3 linked regions of the Homo sapiens genome follow. The protein of the gene in region 2 interacts with the protein of the main gene of each other region in a biochemical or structural test. Each region holds a gene or a part of one and is shown on either strand. Other genes may lie near its edges.

Region 1 (7,000 bases), on a different chromosome or scaffold from region 2:
TTGGAGGACTTTTCAAAGGTTAGCAGTGGATTTAATACTAAATTTGTAAGGAAGTAGCCTGGACTTATATTTAATACAGACTCTTTGAAAGTCTGTGTTATTAAGTGCAATAGAGGATTTAATTGGTGAAATTTTCGCATATTAGAATTTTTTTTTTTTAAGACAGGGTCTCACTCTGTTGCCCAGGCTGGAGTACAGTGGTGCCATCTCGGCTCACTGCAACCTCCACCTCTCAGGTTCAAGTGATTCTCCCACCTCAGCCTGCCGAGTAGCTGGGATTACAGGCACACACCACCACACCCAGCTAATTTTTATATTTTTTGGTCAGGACAGGGTTGGGACGGGGTTTCACCATGTTGGCCAGGCTGGTCTCGAACGCCTGACCTTAAGTGATCGGCTCACCTCGGCCTCCCAAAGTGCTGGGATTACAGGCATGAGCCACCAAGCCTAGCCAACAGTTTAGAATTTCTCATTTAATTATTCTGCTTTTACATTTTTCAGAAATTTCTCGCAGTCTTCCAAAATGTAAAAACAAAGAGGTTTTCTAAGACATAGTGAAAAATACATTTCTGTGATATCTTTTAAGTTTATTTCATAATGCTTTACTATGCACCCTCTTTGAAAGGGACAAATGTGGATTCCAATTATGGAAAAGTCGCCTGGTTATTGCTTTCTAAAGGACTGAAAAAGCTAATGGCACAAGAGAGAAGACAATACCCTAAAATTATTAAGGCAGGCCCAAAGAGCTCTTGTTGACTATACCTTTAGCGAATTCTTCAACATGCAACCACTCTTTCTCAACTTGCGTTCTTTATTTAGGAAAACTAGGAATCCAACCAAAAAGTACAAAAGCCTAGAAATAAGTGAAATCTCTATGTATTTCATCCAAAAGACCACTGGGATGGCTAGATAGTAGAAAGGAGAGCTTTATTGATGATATCAGTTTGCAAACTGGGAAGAGACAGCCTCCAGCATGTGTGGAAGGTGCCCTCTCTTCCAAGAGAGGAAGGGCAGGTTGGGTTTTATGCCTCACAGGGCCTGTATCACACAGTAGAGTCATACATATTCAGTAGGTTTTGGGGGAAAGCTATCCATATTTATGAGGGGAGCTGAGCACATGCAGAATGAGTAAACATATATGTAACATACATCCCATGTTTACTTCGGGGCAGGGTTTTAGTGTTAGAATGAGGTGAAATTTGGCTCTTCATGTCAAAAGGTGAACTGTAGGACATAAACACAGTTTGTGCACCGCATCTATAAGCTGCTAAAACTGGCTTAAGGTCTGCAATTGCTTACCAGGAAAGAATGTGTGTAAGGTCAGTCTTCTGTCTAGTCAGAGTTATAGTGGTCTGGTTAGTAAATCAGGGTAAGGAGGGGGTCTCATAGCGCCTATTGTTAGGGAATTTCAATCATTAGGAATTTAGTAATTTGCCCTCCAGCCAGGCCTTGAACCCTGGACCCATCTTAGTTGATATAGGAGTGTCTATTTTGGCCCCACAGATCACATATATTCATCAGAATAGTCCGAATCTTATTTTCCTTCTTAACTTGCAATGAGTGAATATACAACGAAGTAGATGTTCATGTTCCGGCTAATTTTAGTTCATCAGCATTTTCTGGAAGCAACCAAAAGTCATATGTATTTAGACAGCTGTGATTTCTGCCAATTCAGCTTGCTTCGGGAACTGAGGGGATTCAATCTTACTTTATGCCCAAATCTGTTTGCTTGTGGCTGTTAGCATTAATCTTTTAACCTTTGATTTGCATTCATCTGAAAAGCTAGAGATGATTGTCCTTAATAATTAGTGCCATTCTTCTGTATTTTTGCTTGGATTACCCATGAAAACTAAATGAGACTTTAATTTACTGAGTAAAGCTCTGTCATTATTTTATCAGTTCTAAAGGGCAAGCGTGATTTATTATACAAATAAAACTAAGGAATGGTTATGTGACTTGTCCTTAAATTCCTGCAGCCAAGTGGATTTGGAATTCCTTTTCTAATCTGAGATTTATCTTCGCAGGAACCACATTGACTTGACACGCCTCACAACACAAAGGATAAATTCCATGCCCCTTTGGCTGGAATATGCTAGTAGATCTATTTTCAGAAGTTAATCTCAGATTTGAGATATTTTAATTCTTCTTCTTATTTATTCCCTGGGATGAGTCCAGTGCTCTGCATACATTCTTAATGCTTTAGGTGAAAGAAGGATCAGGCCAAGAGAAACATTCCTCCCCATGGAACAAGGGGTGGGAAGGGATATAAGAACTCAATGTAGAGTCAGAAGATCTCAATGCTGGAATCATCCACGTTCATTTTTAGAGAAGGAAATTAGGTTCAGAATGAGAAGTGAAGGTGAAGTCTACCTGTTGACCTTGTCTTTGGTAACTAACAAATGATTGGACCCAATGGGAACATTGCTATTTTATGCATTGGATACTTTGAAGATGAAAACTTCATTATAAACCAATGATTATTTAAGAGTTGATATTTATAAGTCACATGTTCATAACAGCATTCCATTTGAATTGAACTGTCTATTTAAGATAAATCCAGCTGTGATAGAAGGCATGGTCTCCATTTTGAACCGGGTTTCTGACCATATGAAACTCAAAGAAGTCTAAAAGTTTCTCTGATGTCTATCTACCATTTGCAGAAATGAAGATCAGATATTATATATTTACAAACTCCAGTGGTAAATATATGTGGATAGACTGTATGTACAGTTAGACATGATTTAAGTTTTTGCTTCTTCCTAGATAGCTGTTTCTATTATGCTACTCTTTATAGCAATAAGAACTTAGGAATCCCCCAACATGAACCAAGCACTGTGCTGGTAAAGAACAACAACAAAAACAGTAGAAGACACTGTGTCTGCCCTCCAGGACCTGACAGTTGAGGTAGAGAAAGAAAATGTATTTGCTTGAAAGTAAGAGGATAGTAGGAAATTAGCATATAGTCAGAATCTATGGGGAAGGATCATGGATGATATGTTTACAGCTTAAAGGAAGAGAGCTACTGATGGACACTAGAAGTCAGGAAAGGCTTCATAGCAGTTGTAGGACTGTGGTGGAATCTTGAAGTGTGTGTAGGATATGAACCAGAAGAGAAAAGGGATGGATTCTAAGCACAGAGAACAAGTATGACATAGTAACACTGATGACAAGTGTGAAGGGATAAAAATACATATGGTAAATTCAAGAGATATTTAATAAAGGAGTCTTGTCAGAGTTGAAGATTCATTTTGGCAAGTGGTGGAAGATGAGGCCTCATAAATGGATGATGAAAGGTCTTTGCACTGAACTAGAGTTTAAACTTAATTTCATATACAATAGAGAGCTACTGAGGCTATAATCAAAAATCTGGCATAAATAGAGTATAATCTCGTCTGTGGTATGCTATCCTGTCTGTGATATGAAACATATGTTAAGTCCTTGTGAGTTCAGCTTTTTGTCCCAGCTAATTATCATCATTATTAAGGATTATCTTTCAAAATATCTTATAAAGTGAGGCACTGCAAAGAGAGAACGAAAAGAAACTAGAAAGCTCTGGGGTTTCAAGAAAGTTGCCAAAAGTCTGCTTATCTTCATATATCACCTGACACTCAAACTTACATTTTGGTAACAATCCTCTGAACTGTTTATTTCCAATGTTTTTACATTTACTGTGGGGGGAAAATGCCCCCAAACGTCTTGCTAACCCATTTAGCTTGGGGCCAATACTAGATTCATCCCATCCTCCCAAAACACTAACTGGAAAGTCAAGGACAAGGTGGCAGGCAGCTGATAGTCTATCACTTATTATTCCTCTTATCACTTGCAGGATCTTGAATGTGTTAGACTGTTCTAATTCTCTGATCCCAAGAAAACTTGGAGGTAACTCTTTCAAGAGAAAACAATAAGGTTCTGACTGTTGAGCTAAAAACTAAAGACGCTGCTTGCTGTTGGGTTCTTTGACTCAGGGGAGAGTCCCAGGAGAAAGTCACCATGCTGATATGGTCTGTCCCACAGGTGGCTCCAGTGATTAAAGCCAGAATGATGGAGTATGGAACCACAATGGTCAGCTACCAACCCTTGGGAGACAAGGTCAATTTCTTCCGCATGGTCATCTCAAACCCAGCGGCAACTCACCAAGACATTGACTTCCTGATTGAAGAAATAGAACGCCTTGGACAAGATTTATAATAACCTTGCTCACCAAGCTGTTCCACTTCTCTAGGTAGACAATTAAGTTGTCACAAACTGTGTGAATGTATTTGTAGTTTGTTCCAAAGTAAATCTATTTCTATATTGTGGTGTCAAAGTAGAGTTTAAAAATTAAACAAAAAAGACATTGCTCCTTTTAAAAGTCCTTTCTTAAGTTTAGAATACCTCTCTAAGAATTCGTGACAAAAGGCTATGTTCTAATCAATAAGGAAAAGCTTAAAATTGTTATAAATACTTCCCTTACTTTTAATATAGTGTGCAAAGCAAACTTTATTTTCACTTCAGACTAGTAGGACTGAATAGTGCCAAATTGCCCCTGAATCATAAAAGGTTCTTTGGGGTGCAGTAAAAAGGACAAAGTAAATATAAAATATATGTTGACAATAAAAACTCTTGCCTTTTTCATAGTATTAGAAAAAAATTTCTAATTTACCTATAGCAACATTTCAAATGTATTTAAATACATATAATTTTACAAAAGGAAAATATATATATTAAAAAAGATATCCTATTTTGTAACATATAGATTTTTATTTTATATAGGTTATACAAACTGCGGGGGCAGATATAAAATCTAAGCCAGATTTTTTTTTCCTTTCTCTTAATGGAGGCACAATAAAACACTTAGCAAAGTTATTTTGAAACATTGACCCACGAAATTCTTAAAAGGTATTATTGCTTCTTTCTATACATGTTATGGCTTATCACATCTCTAAAGTTAGTATTTCAAGACAAACACAAAAGAATACTGCGAGTTCTTTAAAATAATTGATCCCATTGGCAGTAAGATTCTCTTCCCCTTTAAGTTTTCCACCCATTTTACTCTTAGCGGACTCACTCTGCAAGCGTGACAAACCAGGCTTCATCTCAGATTAAATTAGGGTAATTGTCTCTATTCTGCTTTCCAGTTCGGCCTGTTTTGAACAGAAGGTTGATGCTAGTTCTTGAGGCATCTTCCAAATAGTATTCTTTTATTAGGTCATTTGAATTAATTAGAGAAAGTAAAAATAAAACCTTATCAGCCTGAGCAAAGAGGAATGAAGCACACTCCCAGAATGTGGTGAGCCCAGAAAATTAAAGTTGGCCTTGGGAGAAGAGATCTCTGTGGGACAATAATGACATCATCCTGGCGCCATATTGCCACTGTCCAGGAAAGAGAAATTTACCTCCAGGCCAGTTGCGCATTTCCATCCCCTCCCCATTCCTCCCCACAAAGTCTCTCCCACTAGACTCCCTACCACTGGGACCCAAAATAGTTACTTTATATTCCATGGGTGGTTGTTTTTCTTCCATGAAATGAGCCTCTCACCCTAGATTTTGAGGCATTATCTTAAGATTTTCCTTTATCCATCTCCCATCGAGATCCAAAGTGACCAGAATATGCAGAAATAATAAGATCCTTAGAATTCAAAATAGTATTTTTAAAACATCCTTCTTTCCCTGTGAACCTGATAGAAAAACATGAGCTAACAAAAGCTTCCATAGATATTTATGGGGTCACACATCGTCAGATTCCAAGTGCTGATTGGAGAACAATAGATTGATATGCAGACTGCAAATGCAAATTTAGGAACATTCTCCATTTCTGAATGGACCAGGTAGTTCAGTACTCAGACTGCAGGTATACAAGGGAAGAGAGAAGGCCCTGCCCTTCAACGGGTAGAAATGCCCTACAATATAACATAGAGAAATGCCCTATAATATAACCACAGGATCCAGCCATCTGAAATTTTCATAAGCTTCCCCCTACATTATTTCTCCTAGGCTATATGCAAAAACAGTGATAACTTGATATGAACATGGCTTTGGGCCCTTTCTGTCTAGAAAAACAAATGGGTTCACTATGACAATCAGAAATAAACTCTTTCATCTGTCCCGCAGAATTTCATGAAGGAGTAACCTTCCATTCTAGGCTTTGTCTAATGGCCAAGCATTAGACAAAGCATTAGAAAGCAGTTCCTTTCTCAAAACTGCCTGCTGAGAATAAGCACATAGCTGCCCGACTATCCGGAGCCTCAGGCCCAAAGGTTCCACTTCAGAGACAGAGATGCTAATTGATCCAACCTGCTGTCCTTCGTGGAGAAGACAGTGGGGCCCAGTGCCCTGGTGAACCAACCCTGCTGTACTCCAGGATGCTTTATCTTTTGAGTTACAGATCCTAGATTATAAACTGCTGCTTTTTAGGTTAATGAGATGGTAAAATTTTAAAGGACAATTTGTGCCTATATATGAAATTCCAGCAAAACAATTCTAGCAACAACAATAGCTCTTCTTCCCCGCTCCCCTACCCCTTCCCAGTACTCCTTCAAATTGGCTGAGAGCCTTGCTCAGGCCTGTGCAGGGAAATCCTTACCAACTGTAGCCCAAAGAAGGAAGCAAATAAAAGCCTAGTAGGTCCCAGTAGTTTAATAAATCATCTTGAAAGGAGATGTGGAATCAGGTCAGAAGAGAGTAAGGGAGGAAGGGAGGGAGGGAGGGAGGGAGGGAAGGAGGGAGGGAGGAAGGAAATGAAGGGAGGGAGGGAGGGAGGAAAGAAGGGAGATTATTTTTAATATTAGCCCAAATTCCCAGTGCCATGGTCTTTATGTGTGCCCATTCTTTACAAATCTTAGAAAAGTTTGGTTTTAGCTTTAATCAGAACTGACATGGCCATTTTCATTTATACAGCAATATTGTGTTTATCATTTAAAATACTTGAACAAACAAGTGTGATATGTCTTTATCTGAGACCTATACATGGTATGGACTTCATATACTGCCACAGGATGTGAGGAAAGAAAAGGAAATCAAT
Region 2 (8,455 bases):
GTCTGCCATTGTGACGTGTAGAAGAGAACCTTATCTCCCCACATCACCCTAGTTTAAAGGTCCAATGGGAGAGCCCTAAACATTTAGGCTGTCTATCCTTGGAGGCCTCTTCATAATCCTGGATTTACTAGGATCCATAATCCTCCTGGATCTTATGGTGCAAGAGGTGATGCGTTCTGTCTCTTTATTTTTTAATTTCACAATTAAGAACAGTTTGAAGCCATTTTCATTTCATGGTCAAGCGGAGTATGACATCAGAGAGAAACTTTCATTTGGAGGAGATTTGATCACTCTAAAATGGATGTCTGTGTTATTTACGGTAGTTTTGTAAAAATTGCAAAATCCACACCCATTTTTAAAAACAAGGTGTCATGTATATACACATGTACACATACACATACTTGTTTATACACACTCTAAAATCTTATGAATAACTTGAAATCAAACTGGTTGGTATAGAATATTATTTTATAGTGCTTTGATACTGGTCTTTGGAACATAATCAATTTCTGTCTTTCTAAATATGTGTTTGAAAGGGAAAGCCTAGCAAGTCTATTAATAAGCTCACTTCCCATTTATCCCAGTGTACCTGGAGCATTAAGCTAAGACGTTCATCCACAGGCTTAAAAACTTACATCAAGCACTACTGAACTTTACAAGCTGGAATAAACAATGCCTACTAAATAAAAGATTTATAAAATTGTTCTGTCTTATTTTTGTGATCTCTTGTAAATGTTTTTTTTTTTTTTTTTTTTAAATATCCAAAGAAGACCTGTGAACTATTATTTGTCAGAAGCAATTGCCCTTGGTATCTGATTCTGTTGAAAGAAATGCGTTGATTTGTCCAGACCTTTATCTTAATGTAGTTTGTACCTACTTATTTCACATCTTCTTTCTCTTCTTAATGATGGTCTTAGCTGGTACCCTGGAAACCAGGTAACTGCTGGGGAAAAACACTGAGTAGATATATAGACAACTTGAATATTCTCTGAAAATGGGCATGGAATCTTTATTGTTATATCAAATTTTCTCTAATTATATCTAATCCTTTAAATTTATTGTATCTCTTAAGACATTAGATAAGCCAGTGAACATGAGCTTTTTTCTTTGGCTTAATTATAGTGGACAACTATTAGGAAGGAACTGTGAGGTTGCAAATAGAATATTTTGAAAGATAAAGTACTCTTTATGTGTTTTGGGGTAATGTTTTTGGAGTGGTTTCTCAGGAAATCGTATAAAGACTGGATTTGAAGAATCTAATAATTCCTATTTTGGGGTTGTAATAAGAACTACATATGATATCTAAAAATGACTTAAGTGTGGAATGGCTGGCTCTGAAGGGCTCCTCAACCTCTCAGTCTCAATTAGTGATATCAATTACACTGAAAGTGTTTTCAACAACTGAAAGTGTCAATCAACACTTTCAGTGTAATTGACATCACTAACTAATTTCAGTATATTCAGCTGTATTTTTGTTCCAGCTTGATTAATGAAGCCCGGGGGACCCCAGGAGTATTAAGTTAGAAGTAGGATGTCTCAATCCTAAAGGGGACCAAATATCATGGTTCCTATTTTCTGTCCTTGTGTTTGTAGATATTTGAAATTCTGTATTATATGGGAATTAGCCTGAAAGTGGATTTCATGATATCAAGATGGCCACCTTCCTTGAATTCCCCAGGTCTGCTTATACTTATACTTATGTAACTTAAGAAGTGGCATTTAAGTTCTCTTGAGAAAATACAAGGGTAGTCTTGAAACCACAGCAGTGCCCAGCCTGCCAAAGGAAGGCTTTTGTGAAACGCCTTTCCAGCCACAGCCTTTGAGGCAGACGTCTAGGTAAGTGTCACATGAGAACAGATGTCTGGTAAATGCTCTCAAGAGTAAAAATCAACCATACAGAGTCCATTTCTCACCAGAATATAGTTCAATTGTAATTTTGAGGAGCCACAAGCCTAAGAAGGAAGCAGTGTGATTAAAACAGCATTCTCCTTTTCCCTCTAGAAGTCAGAAATGGGATGAAATGGGAGGCAGAGAGAATGAAATAGTGTGTTTTTCTTCTGCACCCTAAGGATTTAAATAACATAAAAAATTATTTCTTAATGTTTTACAGACTTTCCATACTCAGTACATTTTTGAACAAAAATAGGGAAAGCTGAGATTTTTTGACTCAACAAGGCCGTCAGTGCTGAGAGGTGGTGATTGAGCAGGCTTGGAAGTCTAGGAATACATTCCTGAAAGCTTTAGAGATTTAGAAATAGAAACCATCTGCAAGCACCACAGGGGCCCAGGGCATAAGGAAACACTTCAGGATAATATAGGAAAATGGTGTGCAGTGGAGAAAGCAAAGCATTTACACAATATTTTCCCCTTATCACTTAAGCATTTTATAAACTCTTTTTTTTTTTGGTTCGTTTTGAAGGAGGCAGGACTGGACTTCATTGGTTTGTGTTTTGAACTTCTGTTTGAAGTAGATATTTCAGCAATTTGTACATTGTGTAGGGAGTATAATATTTAGAAAGCATGATTTGGAGGGTTAGGCATGGTGGGGATGGACTTTGGAGCCACAGCACCAGGTTCGAATCTTCTCTCAGCCATTTACTGGTTGTATGATCTTTGGTAAATTGCTTACCTTCTCTGTGCCTCAATTTTATTTAGAAAATGGGAATTGTGATACATGGTTACTGTAAGTATTAAACAAAATTGTCATGCACTTAGGACAATGCCTCCTTATATTCAGTGCATCTTTTTAAAGGAGTGTGAATATCAGTTTTCTTTACTGCATCCTTCATCTATAGCTACTCATATGTTTGTTTCAAAGAGACCATTATTGCAAGACAGGCCAATGGTGGTGCCTTGCTCAGTAGGTAGAATATAGAAGTCTGCGGTTTAGAAAACTCCTCCAGGTGTGGTTAAGAATACGCTAAATACGTCAGTAGTTCATGTGGACTAAGTTTCAAAAGTGGGTAGGTTAATACAACCCAGCCTCCATACTGAATTTGTACTTTTTTTAATTGAAGGAAAAAAATGAAAGTCCTTGGAACTTCAGAGACAGGATTACTGCTTTGATATGTTGAGACCTGGACTCACCCTGATTAGCTGTATGACCTTGGGTGTAGATGTAACTCATTCAGATTCCTGAAAATCCTTAGCTTTGTTGTGTCTTGAATCAGATGTATCATTAGCATTTGAAAGAAGTCTAAGTCATTAGTACTAAGGTTGATAAGCCAACTTAGGTATTTTACATTCCATATTATTCCCACTACCTCCACCCTGCCCCTGCCAAACAGGCATCAGATGCCCACCGCCTCCATACCTGGAGTAAAACTGAAAGTTGTATTATGTAGGAATGTAAAGATGTTGTGATCTATTGACAAATCTTTGGAAGGAATTATCCCCGTGGGGACCTTAGAAATCAGGAACTCTGAACAACAAAACAAAAAAGTCTTTGGAATTTCAGCTATTTGGGGTGGATCAATTCTGGAACTGGTCTTAACATTTCAGACATTTACTTCAGGGATATGCCCAAGGATTTGCTTTTGTCCTTCTGGACACTTTGTTGTTGAGCAAAGGTGAATTCACTCTCATTTTGGGTAAATTGTTGTTTAACAGCTTCCTTAAACAGGTTTTTGTATCTTACGGATTCTGGAGGGAAGTCATATATTTTACTCTATCTGTCAGGTGTTCACTGTAAGGAAGGGGATTTTAGATATAGTGGTTATGTCTTTTAAAAAGTTTCCTAGGATTTCAATCCGTGTAGATGGAGCTACACTGTACTTCTCCTAAGCCTTGGCCATTTTATCTTAGGTAATATGGACTCTTCAGGGGGGGAAAAAAGGGGAAGGGGGGCTCTTGAATAAAATGGGTAGCCTTTTCACATATTGACATCTTCAGTATTAATTTAGAGAGAGCGATACTAACTTCTTCAATGAAAAATTATTTATGGAAGAGATCCAGTGTATACTTCTAATATTTCATCAGTATTACGTTAAATTGCTTGTAGATTAGAGGTGCTTCTTGTCATAGTGAATGGAGACTAATACCTTAAGTCATTCCTTTCTAGTATGATGATTGTGGTTGCTCTTACTGAGGACTATAAATGTGGATTTGGTTGATACTTTCACGTTTCTCCTTGGACATTGCAGATGGAAGTCATAACCCCAAATGTCTTACTTATCTGCAATTTTGCTCTGAGATATGGACCAGGCTCTAGCAGACCGTCTGCCACTGTGTAGTTAGTGTTGCCTGATTAGAAATAAACCAAGTCCTGCCTAAATTGGTCAATCTGTTTTGTTCCGCGTCCACGCAGGATCCACTTACAGAAAGCCAGTGGCTGCTTTTAACCACTATCGAAACCTCAGTCCTTTGTAAGTACTTTCCTTGGAGCAGAAGGTTTAAAAGCTCATGACTAAACACTCATTTTGGAACTCAAAATAATCTTAGAGAAGTTAGTGGGTTGCTCAGAGTCCCACGAGCTGCTTATGGGCTGCGTGGAAACCCAGGTTATTTCCCCATAAAGCCTCACTCCTGCTGCCCCTCTCTTCTGAGAGAGAAGCAGAGAATGTCTAATTGAGTCACTCTTACTCACTGTCTGCAACGTAAAACTTTTTTTTCTACCATTTTTTTTTGTACCCTAGAACCATTAAAAAAAAAACCAGTCTGGATCCTATATCCGTCTCATGATCTCCCCCAGAGGAGACCTCTTCGGCCTTTTAATACACCACACATGCCCCAGGGGGACGGTGCAGTCACTACCTGCTGCCACTTCATCCACAGGCCATCTTCCCCTCAACTTACTCCTTTCTGCTTCTTACATTATGTGCACGTGGTTTCCTTTATATGCCAAAAAGTATATGGCATGCACTGAAATAACTTTCTTCATAAAACTAAACTTTAGTTTTTCTAAAATTTAAGTTAAATCCTTGTTTTTCTCCCAAAATGCACAGTGGTTGGGGGCTGGGAAGCTGGCGATGGTGGGTATGTGTTTGAAAAGAACGCCAGCTGGCTTTAGACTTATTTGGGGGCTATAGAGCAAGCGGAGCAGTCAGGCATCCCACCCACCCCTGAAATGCTCGGGGCCCTCTTGGCAGATCCAGTGTGCACGTTGTCGTGGCAGGTGGTGGATGGAGAGCTTTTATGCCGATTTCTAGCGTTATCTGGCTTATTGGTTTGAGAGCTGCATACAACGGGATGTTTAATCTTTTTTATTTAAAATTACCATTTATAGTATTTGGGGTGATTTAGAGGATTTAAAAAATCTGTTAGATTCTGAAGTAGTCCTTAAAATATGGAACATAAGTGCTTAAGATGCTAAAACACTTTCTAAAGCATACTATTGGGATGTTTGAAACTGATGTTGGTAAATGTAAACTGTGTGCATTTGTGTTTGGATAATCTGTGATAAGTTTAGTTTTTGATGAGACACAATTTTAATTTCACATTTAAAATGACATATTGAGGTCAATAAGAGCAGGTTTGAATTTACATTTTCCAGAGAAACCCACAATTAATAGGTAACTTTTATTTTCATAATGCTTTTAATTATTACACTTACGTAGATTCAGAAATGGATATATTCCTAAAATAAACCAAAATTAAAACTTCTTTGTCTTTTTAAAGAAAAGCTGTGGTTCTATTAGAGAAAAATACTTCTTTTTTAAGTTTATGAAGAAATAGCTGTTAGATAAAAACTTTTCCTGGTTGAGCTTTCTAAATTACAAATTTCCTGAATTGCATGGCAAAGTGACTTTGAAAAGACCCACTTCATTTTTCCTTTGACAGTCTATTCAAAACACCATTACCACGTAGACTAATACAATAACCAAGGTAAATAGTAACAAGATCTAATGGGGGAAATAGTGTATCAAAAGGGGGAAAACAGTATCCACTGACAGAGAGAACTAGCTGTTTCTTAAAGAGACAGAGAAGAAAGGTTTCCTCGGAGTTATTGGGTCTTCATAGGATGGTCTCCTGTCCTTCTCTGAGCTTGCCTTGGAAACTGTAGAGGCTGTAGGAATATTTGCTGTCTTTAACCCTTACTAATGTTCTCAGCTATTTCATTAGAGGATCACAGTGTCTGTATTTGCCTTAGGTGTAAGATGATTGGAGAAAAGGAAAATGTAGAGAAATCAGATTGACTTTAGATGGACAGGCAGAGAGTTCTGGAGTGACTTCCCACTCCTTAATTCTGCAATGCACCCAGAAGGCAGGGTGAGGTTAGATGATCACCTGGGTATTTACTATAGCCATTATTACTGTGATTAGATAAAGTGTCCTGGAATCTTCTCTGAATAACTCATTTTTCTTTTTTTTTTTTTTCTTTTTTTCGTTTTGCTCTGTCGCCCAGGCTGGAGTGCAGTGGCGCAATCTCAGCTCACTGCAACCTCAGCCTCCTGGGTTCAAGCGATTCTCCTGCCTCAGCCTCCCGAGTAGCTGGGATTACTGGCACCCGCCACCATGCCCAGCTAATTTTTTCGTATTTTTAGTAGAGACAAGGTTTCACCATGTTGGTCAGGCTGGTCTTGAACTCCTGACTTCGTGATCCACCTGTCTTGGCCTCCCAAAGTGCTAGGATTACAGGTGTGAGCCACCGCACCCGTCCTTTTTTCTTTTTAGACAGTCTCACTCTGTCGCCCAGGCTGGAGTGCAGTGGCGCAATTTCTGCTCACCACAACCTCTGCCTCCTGGGTTCAAGCAATTCTCGTGCCTCAGCCTCCCTAGTAGCTGGGACTACAGGTGTACGCCACCAAGCTTGACTAATTTTTATATATATATATATATACAATATTTTTTTTGACAGAGTCTCGCCGTGTCGCCCAGGCTGGAGTGCAGTGGCACGATCTCGGCTCACTGCAACCTCCGCCTCCCAGGTTCAAGCAATTCTTTTGCCCCAGCCTCCAAAGTAGCTGGGCCTACAGGTGCCGCCACTATGCCCGGCTAATTTTTTTGTATTTTTTAGTAGAGATGGGGTTTCACTATATTGGCCAGGCTGGTCACAAACTCCTAACCTCAAGTGATCTGCTCTCCTTGGCCTCCCAAAGTGCTGGGATTACAGGCGTGAGCCACCATGCCCGGCCAATAACTCATTTTTCTAAGGAAGAAAGAATCTCGATTAACAATTGGTGATGACAGTGCCTCCAAAGGCTTCTCATAATCACCCAACCTCAGGTAAACAGGGTGAATGCCACCCTATTGACAGGAGGTTTATTGTGGCACTGGGTTTTGCTCAGTAGCCCTGGTGATCTGTTGTTGAGAACCCAAGCTCATATTTCCCAAGGCTCACCCAACTGGACTTTAGAAACCTGGTTCCAGAATTTTCAAATGTTTGGTTTTCAGGCAGATAGTAACAAGTGTTTGTACCAATGTTCTCCAGAAGGTTGTTAAGACAAGATTGATAATGCTTCCCAGGTATGTGTTTCTTTTTCTGACTCACAGCTGCATGTTACTAGTTTTCCTCATCTGACCCGATGATTGACTGATGGAAAGTCTCATTGAAGGTTTGGTTATCCTTTCATTGGTAGAAGAGACAAAAACAGGACATAAGTGGCTTATTCCATTCACCTCTACTTTTCTATTGTAACTGGATTTATTTCTGCCATCCAGACAGAGAGCCTGGGCTTTGATTTCATCTGTACCAAAGTTTTCTGGGTGGACAGGTACAGGGGGTCATCGTAAGAGAACTCAACTGACCACAATGCAGAGAGAGGTAACTATCCAATGGAATGGTAACATGGTTCCACTACGGTAAGAACTGTAGTGTTAAATGAAATGAATTCTTAATGGGAAAGGAGTCCTATGAATATTTCTAAGTTGTTATGTTTAACTTAACTAACTCTTAAATGCAGGGAATTTAACTTAAAAGTGAATTTAACAAAGAAGTGAATTTAAAAGCCAACAAGCTTCATATCTCTCCACCTCACCCCAAACCCGTGTTAATTAGCCCTTCTTGCTTAAATCAAATCACCTTGTTGAAATTTAATGCTGTGACTAGCAATGTATTCTTTGACCATATCCTTGTTTCCAGCAACAAATACTGCCACGTTAAGGGGAGAAGGAAGTGATGGATAGAGGGACCAGTTGGCAGATTGGGACACACGTACAAACACTATTCCTTTAACTTGCTTTCTTTAGATCCGTAGTTCCTACCTGTGAGTCTCATTTCTGTATTGATCCGCATTGGCTAAGCATACGACTAAAGCGGGATTCTTTGTCTTTTCTTCAGTGAGCTAGCCAGGAATCTCAGAAAAAGGGCAAAGAAGTCCAGAATGATGTAATGCTGCAAAAAATGTTACTGCTGTTTCTAAGGGGAGTGGAAGAAACCCAAGCCAGTTTTGAGTTGAGTGTGCTTCCTGTTGGAAGGGGGTGAGAATTCAGAGATGTATACCTATTAAAAAAAAAACAAAACTCTTAGGATATCACACAGCGTGGCAAACCAGCAAGCCCTGACCTGTTAGCAGTT
Region 3 (7,000 bases), on a different chromosome or scaffold from region 2:
CATCCAGCCCATAAACCAAGCACCAAAGAATAATACAGTTTTCAAAAATCTATTTTCTGCTCCTGTGCCTCAGCTGCTGAGCCCTGTAGAGAAAAATCACACAACCACACTGACTGATATCATTTTACTAACTTATGCGTGCCGCCTTCAGCTGGGCCCTCAGTGTGACTGGAATCCTTCACATATTCCACATCAGCTTCCTCACAGAGTAACGTTTCAAACCATCACTCCTCAATTCTACCTAATTTTACCATTATCAAGGTCATTAATTAACACTGTCACCTATCTGCACAGAAAAAAAATACCCACTATTAAGCAAAAACTTCCCCAACTTTTCAGCTGCCTTACCTGCAAACTCCACCCTTCCTTTAACTCAGTTTATCAAAGGTTAACTGCTTCACCTGACTGCTCCATTCCAAACCCTATTATCTCTAGTTTATCAAAGCACTTAATCTGTGCATTCTCTCGACCCACTGGGTCCTTCATTTTAACTTAAAACTGAAGTCTCTCATCTTAAAAATTACTACAAAAAAACCAACTGTCTATGCATCCCTTCTTATGTAAAAATATCAACTACTTCTTGAACTCTTATTCTGGATTCTGACTGTTGTTTAGCTGGGATAGAACCTGGCTAGCTACCGAATCCTAAATCAGTCTACCTACGTAAGTAATGATAAGGCATGTACTAGTTTCAGTGAATGAAAATAGAACACCTTTTTTTTTTCTTTTTCTTTGAGACAGAGTCTTGCTCTGTCTCCCAGGCTGGAGTGCAGTGGCACAATCTTGGCTCACTGCAACCTCCGCCTCCTAGGTTCAAGTGATTCTCCTACCTCAGCCTCCCAAGTAGCTGGGATTACAGGCAAGCACCACCACACCCAGCTAATTTTTGTATTTTTCGTAGAGACAGGGTTTGGCCATGTTGGCCAGGATAGTCTCGAACTCCTGACCTCATGTGATCCACCCACCTTGGCCTCCCAAAGTGCTGGGATTACAGGTGTGAGCCACCGCACCCGGCCAGAACACATTTTTAAAATCCACAATGTATGGTAGTTTAGGTTTTAAAATGTGTATCACGGTTTGTTTTATACAATGTATTGTTTTTTTCACAACCTTGAAATGCTTTGATTCAACAACTTCTGACTTATTAACATTTACATAAGGGCATACATACATTACTAATGGAAATCAATGGACAATATTTTTAGCCTACTGTTTTAGCACATAATATGTTAAAAGCCATGATGCTACTGTTTTTTTTTAATCAAACACAAAAATCTAAAACTGGCCTCATTATTACATGATAATCTTCATTCTGAATCTTCTCCTCATCTTCTTCATCCTCTTTGGCCTCTCTTACAGAAGCTGTAGTAGGACCACCTTCGAGAAGCATGTCAGAGCATGCAGACTTCTTAGCTCGTGTCTCCAGAGCATCATCATTTTGGGGGCTAAGATGGTTATCTGGTGGTGACAAATCTCTTGACTTCTGAGTTCGAGACAGCTCAATAGTAAGTCTCTTTTAAAACAAGAAAAGCACAAATATTAGCCACAGCTCACTGGCACAGTAAAAGATGTCTCAAGTGAAAAAAAAATGCATCCAGATGTTTCTAAAACCATTGCTTTATTTATTTTTTGAGAATGGTCTCACTCTGTTGCCCAGGCTGAAGTGCAGTGGTGCCATCATAGCTCACTGCAAGCCTTGAACTACTGGGCTCAAACGATCCTACTGCCTCAGCCTCTCAAGTGGCTGGGACTGGAGGTGTGTGCCACCATGCTTGGCTAATTTCATTTTTATTTATTTTTAGAGACGGTATCTTGCTATGTTGCTCAAGCTGGTTTTGAACCCCTGGGCTCAAATGTTCCTCTGGCCTCGGCCTCCCAACATGCTGGGATTACAGGAATGAGCCACCTCACTTGGCACCATTTCTTAAACCATTTCTCTGAATCCCTACTGCCTTTTATTTATAAAAAAAAATTGATGACAAAGATAAACTGCCCCATTTATGCTCATCCTCCTTCTTTCATATCCAGCCTAAGCTAAACATACAATTAGCAAACAGTATAGTGAATACAGGCAGTTTTAAATAGCACATTTAACATGAAAATCTCTGAAAGCATGTATTTATTCACATTTTCCTCCCTGACCTATTAACGACTCTCAGCACTCCAAACCTCCTGCCACACCCTAACTTCCTAAGGGAAATGAAACATTCCTTAGTTTACCACTGTAAAATAAAAATTCATCAATTAATCTTCCCCAGTGCTCATTCAACAATAGTAAGAGTTCAAGATGGGACAACTTTTAATTGTGCTATAGCCTAGAATCCTCTAAATCCAAGATAACTTGTGGAAGAGAAACTAAGTCACTGACAGAAACACAAACAGCTTACCTCAAACTACAGCCACACTGTTCAAAACAACTTTATGCAATGATGGAAATGCTCTAGATTTGCAGTAACCAATGCAAGCACTTGAAATGTGGCTACTGCAACTAAGGAACTAAATTTTTAATTTTAATTAAGCTAAATTTACAGACCAGGCACAGTGGCTCACACCTGTAATCCCAGCACTTTGGGAGGCCAAGGCAGGCAGACTGCTTGAGCCCAGGAGTTCAAGACCAGCTTGGGCAACATGGAGAAACCCATCTCCACAAAAACAAAAACTAGCCATGACACATGCTCGTAGTCCCAGCTACCTGGGAGGCTAAGGTGGGAAGATCACCCGAGCTTGGGAAGTTGAAGCTGCAGTTAGTGGAAATTGTGCCTGGCAACAAGAGTGAGTCCGACCTGTCTCCAAAATAAAAAAAAATAAAAATAAAGTGGCAGGGCGTGGTGGCTCATGCCTGTAATCCCAGCACTTTGGGAGGCCGAGGTGGGCAGATCACGAGGTCAGGACATCGAGACCATCCTGGCTAACACTGTGAAACCCTGTCTCTACTAAAAATACAAAAAAATTAGCCCGGTGTGGTGGCAGGCGCCTGTAGTCCCAGCTACTCAGGAGGCTGAGGCAGGAGAATGGCGTGAACCCAGGAGGCGGAGCTTGCAGTGAGCCGAGATTGCACCACTGCACTCCAGCCTGGGCAACAGAGCGAGACTCCTTCTCAAAAAAAATAAATAAATAAAGTAAAATAAAAATTTACATGGCCGTATGTGGCTAGTGTCTACTAAACTGGACACTGCAGAACTGGTAAGGATGGGGAACAAGATAACTAGATTTTTTTTCTAATTACAAATTACAAAATTACAAATAGCAATAAAATATATAAAATCTAATTACAAATATAACAAGCCAAAAGGACAATAGGAAACACCAAAACAGAAATAGATATTTTCTTACCTCTTTAAGGTTGTTTATTTGTTGGATATAACTAGTCTGTGCAGCTTCCAACTGAGTAATGTACCAATGCTGGTCCCGGGATTTTTGAAAGAAAGTTGGTGAACGTACCTGAAACCTTAAAAGAATTGTGCCACATTAAAAAAAAAATTCAAATAGTAAAACATTATCAGTCTAGCACTGAATTCTGCAATTTGGGTTAACTTGATTATAAGGCCAAAATTCACATAAACTTAGAGCTGCTAGTATTTGTTGTTTATAGATGTAGTCCACAGATTATGACACAAGGTTCTGAAAAGCCAGTTGTCCTCAAACTACCTTTCTAAAGAAATAACATTGTACATTGTAGTTAAGCTTCCCAAACTAACCTACTCAGGCATATTTATTATAATAATGTAACTAAAATACAATGATGATCATGAGTTGGGAAGAAGAGAGCCATATACTATGCAGTTTCCTCCTATAAGGAGGAAGATAACTCTTATCCCTTTCTTCCCTAAATGAGGCCCCAGCAAAATACAAAGTTTTTTTTTTTTTTGAGACGGAGTCTCGCTCTGTCGCCCAGGCTGGAGTGCAGTGGCGGGATCTCGGCTCACTGCAAGCTCCACCTCCCGGGTTCACGCCATTCTCCTGCCTCAGCCTCCCAAGTAGCTGGGACTACAGGCGCCCGCCACTACGCCCGGCTAATTTTTTGTAGCAAAATACAAAGTTTTAAGTGCTGCTCTTTATATTTCTCTATTCCATCTCACGTTCCCGTATTTCCTGCCCCTCAGAAAAAAAATCACTTCCTGGCTCAACCACCCAGGATTGCTTTACTATCCCCCAAGGAGTTACATGCTCTAAATAAACTATATCCTGAACCCTTCAAGATAGCAATCAAAACTGCCCTTATTACAATATGGCATTATTTCAGCTTAGGTTAGGAAAAAAAGTACTGCACCTACATAAAATCGTATTAATATATAAATGACAGAATCTTAATCTATCCAGAGTTGTTTTAATTAAAAAAAAAAAAAAAACTATTACTAAAGCAAACAAACCTCTACCTTTGTTACATAGCCTAACGTGACTATATTTAAGGTGAAAAAATTGCAGTGCATGTGTGAAGGTGTTTTTGAAGAAAGGAAAAACCACAAGGCAAGACTAATTTGGACATCTACATCTCTCTCATTCCTTCCAGCCCTTTTACCCGGCTACACAATGTTAGCTGTTCATTTTTTTCTAGGATTTTACACCTTATTGTAAGAACCTACTGACCATTTAACAGTTATCTGGCAGTAGATATCTAGTTTTAGTGAAGAATACTAATGCAAGAAAGGACAGAACATAAACACTGACTATAAAACAACAGTCCTATTTAATGTTGGGATAGTCTTTATAGGTCAGAAGTTTTTGGGCATCATTATATGTTATAACTGGATGATCAAAATGAGAACTTGAGTATTAAAAAAAGAGAGAGATTGGCCGGGCACAGTGGCTCACACCTGTAATCTTAGCACTTTGGGAGGCCGAGGTGGGCAGATCACCTAAGGTCAGGAGTTCGAGACCAGCGTGGCCAACATGGTGAAACCCCGTCTCTACTAAAAGTACAAAAATTAGCCGGGTATGGTGGCGGGCGCCTGTAATCCCAGCTACTCAGGAGGCTGAGGCAGGAGAATCGCTTGAATCTGGGAGGCAAAGGTGGCAGTGAGCCGAGATCGCACCACTGCACTCCAGCCTGGGCAACAGAGCGAAACTCTGTCTCAAAAAATCAAATCAAATCAAATCAAATCAAATCAAATCAAATCAAATCAAGAGATTAAATTACGTTCTGAACGGAACTGAGTAGAGATGATTCACTCAACTGAGCAGAGACGATTCACAGTCTAGGAAGTACCCACTGGTAAGACATTAAAGTAAGACCGTCTAAACACTATTATTTTCTTTGAATGATTTAAACCACTGGTTAACTCTGCACATTAGTTCTAATATTTTGCCATTAAAACAAAACCAAGCAGCAGGTAAAATTTCTTAACTTTCTGTTTTAATGAAAGAATGAAACATACATTCATAGTTATAGAAAAGCCTTAAATAACTTTCTAATAAATACATACAAAATTCCACCAGAATCTTGAAATAAAAGGTTTAAAGTTTGAGCAATGTCTCATTAATAGGATAATGTGAAGCCCCCTATCCACAAACTTCATAGCAATTTACTTACGGTGCTACTATAGCATTATTTTATAATAAGAGAGTAGTAAATTCTGTTTTTATCTGCCAATTTCATCTTGAGTTCCCTGTGGACAAAAACCATGTCTATATTTTTCTTATTAGCAACTCAGTGTCAGGCATATGGTATAGACTCAATGTTGCTTAAAAAAAATGATGTCATAACAGGAATTTGTTTCTGTACTAATAAGTAACGCTAATAAGGATGAAATCAAGGCTATAAGAAAATGGGTCTTTTATAGGTTGGTAAAATTGATGTTTGAATAATTTTGTAATTCTCTCTATGGCTGAAGCATGAAATAGCAATAAATTATTTCTCTTGGTGAATAGTTAAACCCCAAAAGTCTGAAAAGCTATACGAAGAAAACTAAAATAATCCCTCCCCTCAAAAAACATGATTCCAGGCACCGTGGCATGCACCTGTAATCCTACCTACTTGGGAAGTTGAGACAGGAGGATCACTTGAGCCCGAGAATTCTAGACTAGACTGGGCAATATAGCAAGACACTGACTCTAAACAAAACAAAACAATAACAAAAACATATCTTTTTCCCTACACTGAAAATCATATCCCTTGTTAAACTTCTTTATACTTCCAGAAAAGCTACGGAAAACACATAAGAGTAAATGCTGATATGATAGCAACTCATCTGTCCAGTATGCTCAAGAACAAAGAGCTCCGAATAAGGGAAATTCAGGAGTACATTAAATCACTCTCAAGAAAAAAATGTTTAAAATTGTTGTGATGAGAACTTTTTAAACTGTTAAATACTCTGAAACTTCTCAGTTCAGAACATATTTTAATCTTTTTTAAATATTCAAGTTCTTATTTTGATCATCAAATTATAACATCATGTAATGATACCCAAAAACCTTTTTTTGTTTGTTTTTTGTTTTTTTAAGATGGAGTTTCACTCTTGTCGCCCAGGCTGGAGTGCACTGGTGAAATCTCGGCTCACTGCAACATCTGCCTCCCGGACTCAAGCGATTCAACTGCCTCAGCTTCCCAAGTAGCTGGGATTACAAGTGCCTGCCACCATGCCCAGCTAATTTTTGTATTTTTAGTAGAGACAGGGTTTCACCATGTTGCCCAGGCTGATCTTGAACTCCTGACCTCAGGTGATCCACCCACCTCAGCCTCCCAAAGTGCTGGGATTACAGGCGTGAGCCACGGCACCCAGCCAATGCCCAAAAACTTCTGACCTGTAAAGACTACCCCACGTTAAACAGGGCTGTTGTTTTTATTTACTTTATTATTATTTTTGAGATAGGGTCTTGCTATGTCGCCCAGGCTGGGGTGCAGTGGCATAATCTCGGTTCACTGCAACCTCCACCTGCCGGATTCAAGCGATTCTCCTGCCTTGGCCTCCTGAGTAGCTGGGATTACAGGCGCGTGCCACCACAGCCCGGCTAATTTTTGTATTTTTAGTAGAGATAGGATTTCACCATATTGGCCAGGCTG

Evidence for each region.
Region 1: the proteins of BASP1 (region 2) and GAD2 form a complex in vitro, tested with the Homo sapiens proteins (one study listed by BioGRID).
Region 3: the proteins of BASP1 (region 2) and TRIM37 form a complex in vitro, tested with the Homo sapiens proteins (one study listed by BioGRID).

Annotation. Positions count from the first base shown.
Region 1 is NC_000010.11:26,296,774-26,303,773, forward strand, and holds part of GAD2 (glutamate decarboxylase 2), read left to right. Parts: intron 1-4,014; coding exon 4,015-4,188; 3' UTR 4,189-7,000. UniProt on the Homo sapiens protein: Catalyzes the production of GABA.
Region 2 is NC_000005.10:17,220,631-17,229,085, forward strand, and holds part of BASP1 (brain acid soluble protein 1), read left to right. Parts: intron 1-8,455.
Region 3 is NC_000017.11:59,047,881-59,054,880, forward strand, and holds part of TRIM37 (E3 ubiquitin-protein ligase TRIM37), read right to left. Parts: intron 3,449-7,000; coding exon 3,334-3,448; intron 1,514-3,333; coding exon 1,298-1,513; intron 1-1,297. UniProt on the Homo sapiens protein: E3 ubiquitin-protein ligase required to prevent centriole reduplication. Probably acts by ubiquitinating positive regulators of centriole reduplication.